2 linked regions of the Homo sapiens genome follow. The protein of the gene in region 2 interacts with the protein of the main gene of each other region in a pairwise test. Each region holds a gene or a part of one and is shown on either strand. Other genes may lie near its edges.

What was found. The genes of interacting proteins can lie anywhere in the genome.
Region 1: the proteins of CCDC13 (region 2) and MYF5 interact in binary tests that used the Homo sapiens proteins (3 or more experiments, as listed by UniProt).

The regions. Positions count from the first base shown.
Region 1 is NC_000012.12:80,715,614-80,719,711, reverse strand, and holds MYF5 (myogenic factor 5), read right to left. Parts: upstream 2,801-4,098; 5' UTR 2,649-2,800; coding exon 2,148-2,648; intron 1,355-2,147; coding exon 1,279-1,354; intron 852-1,278; coding exon 661-851; 3' UTR 41-660; downstream 1-40.
Region 2 is NC_000003.12:42,710,216-42,715,005, forward strand, and holds part of CCDC13 (coiled-coil domain-containing protein 13), read right to left. Parts: intron 3,102-4,790; coding exon 2,947-3,101; intron 1-2,946. UniProt on the Homo sapiens protein: Required for primary cilia formation and promotes the localization of the ciliopathy protein BBS4 to both centriolar satellites and cilia.

The DNA of each region.
Region 1 (4,098 bases), on a different chromosome or scaffold from region 2:
TCCATTGGGGTGTTATTTTAAAAGATCATGAGCCAAAATATTTCTTGTAGTAAAAAATTTTATTTATGGTGGAATTTCCAAAATTTCTTATATCTTGAAATGATCCACAAAGTACTATTTTGTGCTTACATTTAAAAGATACATTTCTTACAAGAAAAGATCAAAATATATACATTAGGCAGTATTATATTTTTATTTAATACAATATAACTAAAGGATTAAAGAGAAAAGAAATAGTTAAATATATTTAAAATTCCATTTAACTGATTCTCAGCTGTTTTAATGTTTTAAAGAAAAAAATAAAGCTCTAAACACCAGAGACATTTTGATGAGCAATATTTATAATATATATATATGTATATATAAGTTAAGCATTGCAACAAGCTACCCTCAATCAATGGCCCCCTATCAGAAATAGTATTACTGGAACTATGTATTAATATCTAAGCAAAGAATAATAAAGAAGAAGAAAGTATTATTTGCAATGATGACTTTTTAGTTAAATACACTTTCTTATAAAGTGGCAAGGTAATCTTTACAAATTTACAACTGAAAAGAAATCTTTATGTACATGTTGTCTTGGTTTGGGACTTTTTGAAGCCTTCTTCTTCCTGTGTATTAGGCCCTCCTGGAAGAAGTCATATAGACCAGAAAATTAGTTCATAGCACATGATAGATAAGCCTGGAACTAGAAGCCCCTGGAGTTGCAGGCTGTGAATCGGTGCTGGCAACTGGAGAGAGAGAAGCCAGATCCTGGAGAGGCAACCCAGGTTGCTCTGAGGAGGTGATCCGGTCCACTATGTTGGATAAGCAATCCAAGCTGGATAAGGAGTTTTTATCTGTGGCATATACTAAGGATACAAGGAGAAAAGCATTAAAAAATAATTAGCCCAAGATAGACAGATTTGCTTATGTTGCTCCTTAAATTGTAGGTCAGCTCCTCTGACACCCAGAGGTCAGGTGGTCACAGAAAGCCTAACATAGAAATTTGCAACAAATATCTGGCAATTCCTGAGGGGTAGACGTGGGGAGTGGGGAAGCCCCCTGATAATATTTCAAGCAACATTGTGTGTGCATGTGTGTATGCATGTGTGCGTGCGTGTCTGCTAGGGGGATTTGGAGCAGAAGATGTGTTTATTTTGCTTTACCAAAGCCTCCCTATAAGAACCATCACTTCCATTCTCCCTTCCCCAATACTATCAGCAAGAACAGAATCTTATAGGCTGAATTGTTAGGTTGAACTGGTCTTTAAACTCCTGTGAAGTTATCAATTCTTACCATTTGATACATCAGGACAGTAGATGCTGTCAAAAGTACTGCTCTTTCTGGACCAGACAGGACTGTTACATTCGGGCTATAATACAAGACACACAACAAAGTTTGTTTTCAGGTCTTGGCAAAAGATGTTCTGACCAAAGGTGAGGCTGTGCTTGCCCACCAGCTCTGTAACCGAACACTGTCAATCACCTTCACTGCCTTGATTTAGGAAGGGCTAGCCCTCTCCAAATTCCCAGGGCACTGAGGTCAATCTCTGTGCTTGAAGAAGAGGAGAGCAGCAGCAAAGGGAAGAGGGGGTGGAATTCAGCAGCAATGTGCATTGGGTTAACCATGCAAAATGGATTGGAGTAGAAGAAAGCCACACTAATTCAGGGAAAGAACACTTTCCCAGGGCAAAAACACATTAAAACCTGGCAGCCTTGGAGCAAACGCCCTCTAAAAAGAATGCATCAACATCTTTCAGCCAGGCCTCATTGGAGCAGGAACTGGGGCCGTGTGGGTATTTCTTTCCATTTCCTCATTAAGTTAGAAACGGTGCCTTTAGATATTAGCGTAGGGCATGATCCACAGATGGCATATTTTGAAAATAAATTCAGGAATGGAGAAAACATCTGAGTGATCATTCACAGCCACCCATCTTCCATGTCAACACTCGATTACAGTGTACACCTAGAACCTGCTAGAAAGTTAAACTAAAATCTTGTTCAGCAGCGGTTTGGGGAGTCTTTCTAAATGTGGACCCCTCTCTTCTTTTAAAGCAACTCAGCATCTGCCTCCACCCCACTCTCCCCACCACACCAGGTTAAATGAGGTGTAAGGACTTTAGAAAAGATTAGGGTAGCCTAGCAGGTACCAGATCTATTGCTTACCATGCCATCAGAGCAGTTGGAGGTGGGGCTGGTGGGCTCCGAGCAGCTCTGTCCCGGCAGGCTATAGTAGTTCTCCACCTGCTCTCTCAGCAACTCCTGCAGGCTCTCGATGTAGCGGATGGCATTCCTGAGGATCTCCACCTTGGGCAGCCTCTGGTTGGGGTTGGTCGTGGTACACCTCTTGAGGGTTTCGAAAGCCTGGTTGACCTTCTTCAGGCGCCTCCGCTCGCGCATAGTGGCTGCCTTCCGCCGATCCATGGTGGTGGACTTCCTCTTGCAGGCTTTGCAGGCCCACATGAGGCAGTGACCAGCCTGGTGGTGGCCGGTAGGCGCTCGCACGTGCTCGTCCTCATCTGAGCCCTGCAGCTCTGCTTTGTGCGCTCCGAAGGCAGCCACTCGCGGCACAAACTCGTCCCCAAATTCACCCTCGGGGGACGGTATGCAGGAGCCGTCGTAGAAGTACTCAGAAGGTGAGAACTGGCAGCCATCCATCACGTCCATCCTGCTGAGAGGCAGGCGGTGCACCTGGACGGCAGCGAGAGGGATGGGGAGAAACGGGAGCCTGGCGCCTCCGCCGATGGGCAAATCCCGGGCGGAGCTCCCTAGTCTGTCGCTCCGGTAATTAACAAGGGCAGACGCCTGTTGGCCTGGGTAGACAAGCTGGGGTTGGGGTTCTTTATATATTCTTTCGGGAGGGAGGCCGGCCCCAGTGGCCAGGCACTATTAGCATATCCCACCGCAACCCCCGCGGGGGCTGTCTGGACAAACCTCCGCCTTTCCTCTACAGACAATCTGCTGTGTACTGCCCCTTTTGACGCTAATGGTTTTACTGTATTTCTGCTGGGGCGGCAGTGGGTCCCCAACCTGCTCATTTGCACTCTCTAGATAGGCTAAAACAAGGGATCACTTAAGGAGTGTTTCACACAAAAGTGACCAAGGCAGTCCAACTTTTTGCAATTGGACACACATTTTAAAATAGTGGTAATAAATAGAAATCCCTTTCAGCTGGCACCAAGAGCCGACCTGCCCTCCCAATCCTGGGCGTGAGGAATCACCTGATTTGGGGGTGTTTGTTTCTCTTTTTCATGAACTTCAATTATCTCGAAAACTTTTTCCAGCAATTGGATTGAATAACGGTTACTAAAAACTTGAAGTGGCATTTTCAATCTTGGAGTGAATACAGGGTTTGCCTTTCCAAATCTATTTTGTATAGCTTCAGATGAGTAAAGTTTTGCTCAGATTGTCATTTATTCTAGGCTCTACCTTATTGAGAGTAGGGAGGGAGGTTCCTTTTCCCATGACTGGGCTTGCTCTGAGTTCTCCCTGTATGTCTGCTCATCTAAAAGGAGGTGGGGCACAGGAGGGCCAGGTGACCAGGAACATTCCTCCCGTTCTTGCTTCCTTCATTTTCCCCTTCTGTACGTATTTGTTGAGCACCTTCTCCTTTGTGCCAGGCCTTCCCTAGATCCTGAGCAGGCCAAAGACCTGCACTGAAAGTGTCTCTAAGATTTCCAACAGAAGAAGCCCAGTTTTCGACGGCAAACTCCCTTTCCAGGGGTGAGTCTCCTTTCTCCCTCTCTTTCTGCTCCGCCCTGTCATTTCTACAGACTAAACAGCCAAGCTGGGCTTTGGGGTTGCTAATTTTCTGCTTTCAGGCAAACTAACACCGTTACAGATGCGTCCCAGCTGCCGCCACTGCAATCCTTGACTCGTGTAAAATTTCCAACTCCTCAAACCAGGAGTAACTTCACACACTTCAGTGACAAAAGCCTTCCAGAAAAGCAATCACAGCAGGGTCTTTAGAACTTCGATGGATAGAAGGCAAGAGGGGAGGGTTGTCATTTAAGTGGGAATGAATCTATTAATCAGCTTTTACCAATCCTCCTCCAACCTTAATCCACTTTCAGGTTATTTGGGTTGGGGAGGTGCTGTTTATATTTAGGAAAAGCAA
Region 2 (4,790 bases):
TCTTGTGCCTCCCGAGTAGCTGGGACAACAGGTGCCTGTCACCATGCCCAGCTAATTATTGTATTTTTTGCAGAGACAGGGTTTTATCATGTTGGCTAGGCCTCCCAAAGTGCCAGGATTACAGGCGTAAACCACCATGCCCAGCCTGGTAATTTGTTTTCAAAAAGAGAAACCAGCTGAGCCTGAGGTCTGGCCTGCAGGCTGAGCCCGAGTCTAGACTGTCACTGTACCTGATGCCCTCATACCAGTGGTCCCCATCCAGGCCATCAGCTTCATACTAGGAAGCAGGGGATCCAGGGTCCTGGAGTTGAAGGGTACAGAATGTTCACAAAAAGGAGACAAAGTGGCCCACGGTGGGGTGGTCCCAGAACTTTGGGAGGCCAAGTGGGGGCAGATTGCTTGAGGTCAGGAGTTCAAGACCAGTCTGGCCAACACGGTGAAACCCTGTCTCTACTAAAAATACATAAAAATTAGCCAGGCATGGAGGCATGCACCTCAAGACTAGTCTTGTGTAAACCTGTCTCATTGCTGGGGAGGCAGCAGAGTGGCTCTGCCCTCTACAGGGGCTGGACTGAGTGTTCTTCAGGGCCTTTCCTGGCTCCAGGGGACACTGCTAAGCTGCCCTTGGCTTATTCCACGCATTGAGCACCTCCACATCCCCAACTAGAGCTGCCCTGGATGGGAAACTGCTTGTTCAGCCTGATGGAATTTTCTAAGCCCTGTGACACAGGGAATCAAAAAGAGCCTCAGCCGGGTGCGGTGGCTCATGCCTATAATCCCAGCACTTTGGGAGGTCTAGGGGGGTGGATAATTTGAGGTCAGGAGTTCAAGACCAGCCCGGCCAACATGGTAAAACACCATCATTACTAAAAATACATAAATTAGCAGGGTGTGGTGGCGAACCCCTGTAATCCTAGCTACTTGGGAGGCTGAGGCAGGGGAATTGCTTGAACCAGGGAGGTGGAGGTTGCAGTGAGCTGAGATCGCACCGCTGCATTCCAGCCTGAGGGACAGAGTGAGACTCTGTCTCCAAAAAAAAAAAAAAAAAAAAGACAAAGCTCAACTGGTGGTGGCGAACTTGGGCAAAATCACAGCATCAGAAAACCTCGGGACTGAAAAGGCCCTCAGAGGTGGTGTGACCCACAGTAAATTACTTGGTATCAGAAGACCTGGCTTTCGCCCTCTGCTGAGAGGCCTCAGGCAAACTATCAGCCTCTCTGAGCTGGTTTCCTTAGCTGAAAAAAAGGATAATAGTTTATGCCTCTAGAGCTTTGGCAGCCTCAGTGAATTCTATTTGGCTCTCAAGGCCCTGTGTGATTGGACCACTCCAGCCTCCCTGCCTCCTCCCTGTTCCTCCAAGCATCCAGCTAAGCTTCCAAGCACCGACACTTGTCTTTCCCTCAGGGATCGGCAGGCCACATCCCCTCCCAGTTCCTCCATCTCTGCTCAGATGTCTAGCTCCCCTACTGGAGTGAGACTGCCATGGGGGACTGAATTATAAATCTAGCCTCCTCATTTTACGGATGGGCCAGGGGGAGGCGGGTAAGTGGTGCTCTGCTCACCAGAGGGGCAGGATTTTGCCCATGTTAAAAGCCAGTAGGCAGCAGAGGCCACCTGGACACTTTCCCTCAGGCAGCTGCCCTCACTGTCCAGCAGGGAACAAAGTGACTTGCCTGCTGTGGCTTAGCTCTCCCTGGTTGGAAGTCCTGCTGCCCTACAGGAGGTAAGCCCCAGCCTGGAGAAGCCACACTCCTAGGGAACATATTCCTGAGAGTCCAAGAGGGTCAGCAAGGCTAAGCCCCAGAGACCCTTCCTTCCCGGCCTGGATTCTCAGAAGCTCCTGGCCCTGCTGGTGGGAGAAGAGAAAGCAAGTGGCCCCAACACCCTCTTTATGCCCTACTTCTGGCACACCCTTCTGAAACGTTCTGACCTCATCTGGGCTGAGGACTGAGACCAAGGGTCTGACCATCCTTGGCTGGGGAGGGGTTGGGGGGCTACTGGGGTGTTGAAAGAGGGTGCAGTGGGGGCAGCAGCACCTCCAGCATTCCAGCCTGGAGGGGGCTGGGATGGGTGGGATGGGAGGTCAGACAGAGGCAGGCCCAGCCCCTCCACATTGGAGACCCTTCCTCCCTGGGAGTCAGCCATCCCAGAAATGGCTTCTGGCTCTGGCATCCTCCAGCTCGCCCCAGCCCCACAGGATGCTGATGCTGCTCATCTGAATACTGCACCTTGAGAACCACTGTGTTCGAGCGATAGACTTTTCAGTTAAGGATAGCATTTCCCAGCTTCCCTCTGCACCTGGCTATGCCCAACTGTCTGGCTGATGGGATGAGAGCAGAAGTGACATATGCAACCGTAAAAGGTAAGGAGAAGTTTGTCTCCTTCCCTTCTCCCCTTCCTGCTGCTGATGGGAAAGCTCAGGCAGTCATTGTAGACCAGAAGATGGAAGCTGCATGTTGAGAACAGTGGAGCCACAAAACAGAGGGAGCTTGGGTCCCCAAACCTCTGGTGAGGCTACTTCCTGCTTATATCAACTTGACCATTGCAGGAGGCACAAAGGGACTCCTCCCCTGCTTCAGCCACTGTTGCTTGGGCTTCCCCAGCAGACCAGCTGTGCCCCATGACCACTTTGAATGAAGTCAGCTTAGGATAGAGGGTTGAGGGCTAGGGTGGCTGGGGGCATTCAGCACTGCCACCTCATGCTGAGGGCTTACAGGTGGCCAGGCCAGGGCCACACGAGGCAATGGAGCTCTGGGGCTCCTGCTTCTGACTGAGAGGCCTGGGGAAAAGAACACCCCACAGTGGAGGCAGGCAGAGCTCCACCCTGATGGAAGCTCTGCTTCCCACATGCTCACTGATGGGCTGAACAGTGCAGCTGCCTGGCTCCTCTGTTAGCAGCAACACTGCCTCCACCCCCTGCACTGAGACTACTGCCCTGGCCCCTACCTGTTTTGGTCCTGGGAGCTGCTCTCTGGGAGGCTGATGCCTTCCCTGGCTCCAGGCGTATCTTCTCCAGATGTTGCTCCAGCACCACGGTGCGGTGTCGCTCCTCCTGCAGCTTCCTCTCTGACTCCAGGAGCTTGCTGTTGCTCTCCTCCACCCTGGTGATTAGAGAGGAGGGGATGCTACATGCCCTGGCAGGCAGGGGCAGGCCCTACCCCACTTGCTCAGGCCCTTAGAGAGATGGGCACATCTTACATTGGTAGTGATGGGACCTCTTCATTTTCATTGCAGTAACACAGGAACATGCATTTAAACACCATATGGTTCTCTCCAAGGTTAAAATTTAAAAATTATCAGCCCACTCCCAGCCCCATCATTCCCAATTCCTGCTCTCTAAAAGCAATCACTTATAACACTTCTAGCTGTTTCTTTTAATATTTACTGCCATATTTCTACAGATGCTTATGTTGCTATTTTTAGGTTTATATAAGGTTTAAATATAATCTTTTGACTTCCTGTCATGCAAAATAAGAATTTAGTTTTATTTTAGTACTCTCCTCCTACGAAACAGAATCACCTGTATACGTTTTTGGATGAATTGATATTAGGTATCAGTTTTCTATCACAGCTATAACAAATTACCATAAATTTAGCAGCTTAAAACAACACAAATCTATTATCTCACAGTTCTGTAAGTCAGAGGCCTGGCAAGCTCAGTGGGTTTCTCTGCTTCTGGTTTCACAAGCCGAAATCAAGGGGTTGGCTGACCTGGGCTCTTATCTGGAGGTTCCGGGGGAAAATCCACTTTCAGGCCCATTCAGAGTGTTGACAGAATCCAGTTCCAGGTAGTTGAAGGACTGAGGTCCCTGTTCCCTGCAGGCTGCTGGTCAATTTCACCTTCTAGGAGCCACCTTGCCCCCTCCATCTTTAAAGCCAGCTAGATACCCTTAACACACTTTGAATCTCACTACCCTCTCTGACTTCCTCCACAGCAACTCTCTGAATAATCCCAGACGGAGATATTTCTCTGCTTTTAAGGGCTCAAAAGATTACATTGAGCCCACCAGATAATCCAGGATAATCTTTCCATTTTAGGGTCCATAACAATAATCATATCTGCAAAATCTCTTTTTCATGTAACATAAAGCACTCACAGGCATAACAGCAGGGAGCAAAGGGCATAGACACCAAAAGCCTGTCTACGTTAGGACAATTAGTTAGAGCCATGACGCACAGTGTCATATGTCCTTTCTCATTTAATTGTTCGCTTTTCTTGGAGTTAGTGATTATCTTAAGCTTATTGTTTTGTTTTCTACATGCCTGTCATAAATGTTATTTCACATGAAGCACTTGTTTAATCCCACTGGAGCTTGAGCTTAGGTCCTTCCTGTGGCTAGGTGTGCCATTTCAGACTTCTATGATACTAAAGGTTCATTTAGTGAGAAAGCCAGAACTCCCTGAGATCTAACCCAAGCCAAGAGTTACATGCACACCTGAAAATTAGAGGGGCAGCCTTGAAACTGACAGTGTTGGAGGAAGTGATCTTTCCACCTTGGTGAAGGGTCAAAAGGAACAGAATGACAACAATTTTGAACAGTATACAACTACTAATAAAAAGCTGTATAGTAACACAGTAAACAGCTACTAACACATATTTAAGCATATTCCTTGAGATTTTATTTGCAAAAGCAAAAACCCAAAACAACCTAAAGGCCCATCATCAGGGGACAAACAAGTAAGTGGTAACATATTCATACTATAGAACGTGATAGAATATGATAGAGCTGTGCTGCCCAACACAGTGACTGCGAGGTTCATGTCCACATGTAGCCATTAAAATTAAAGTT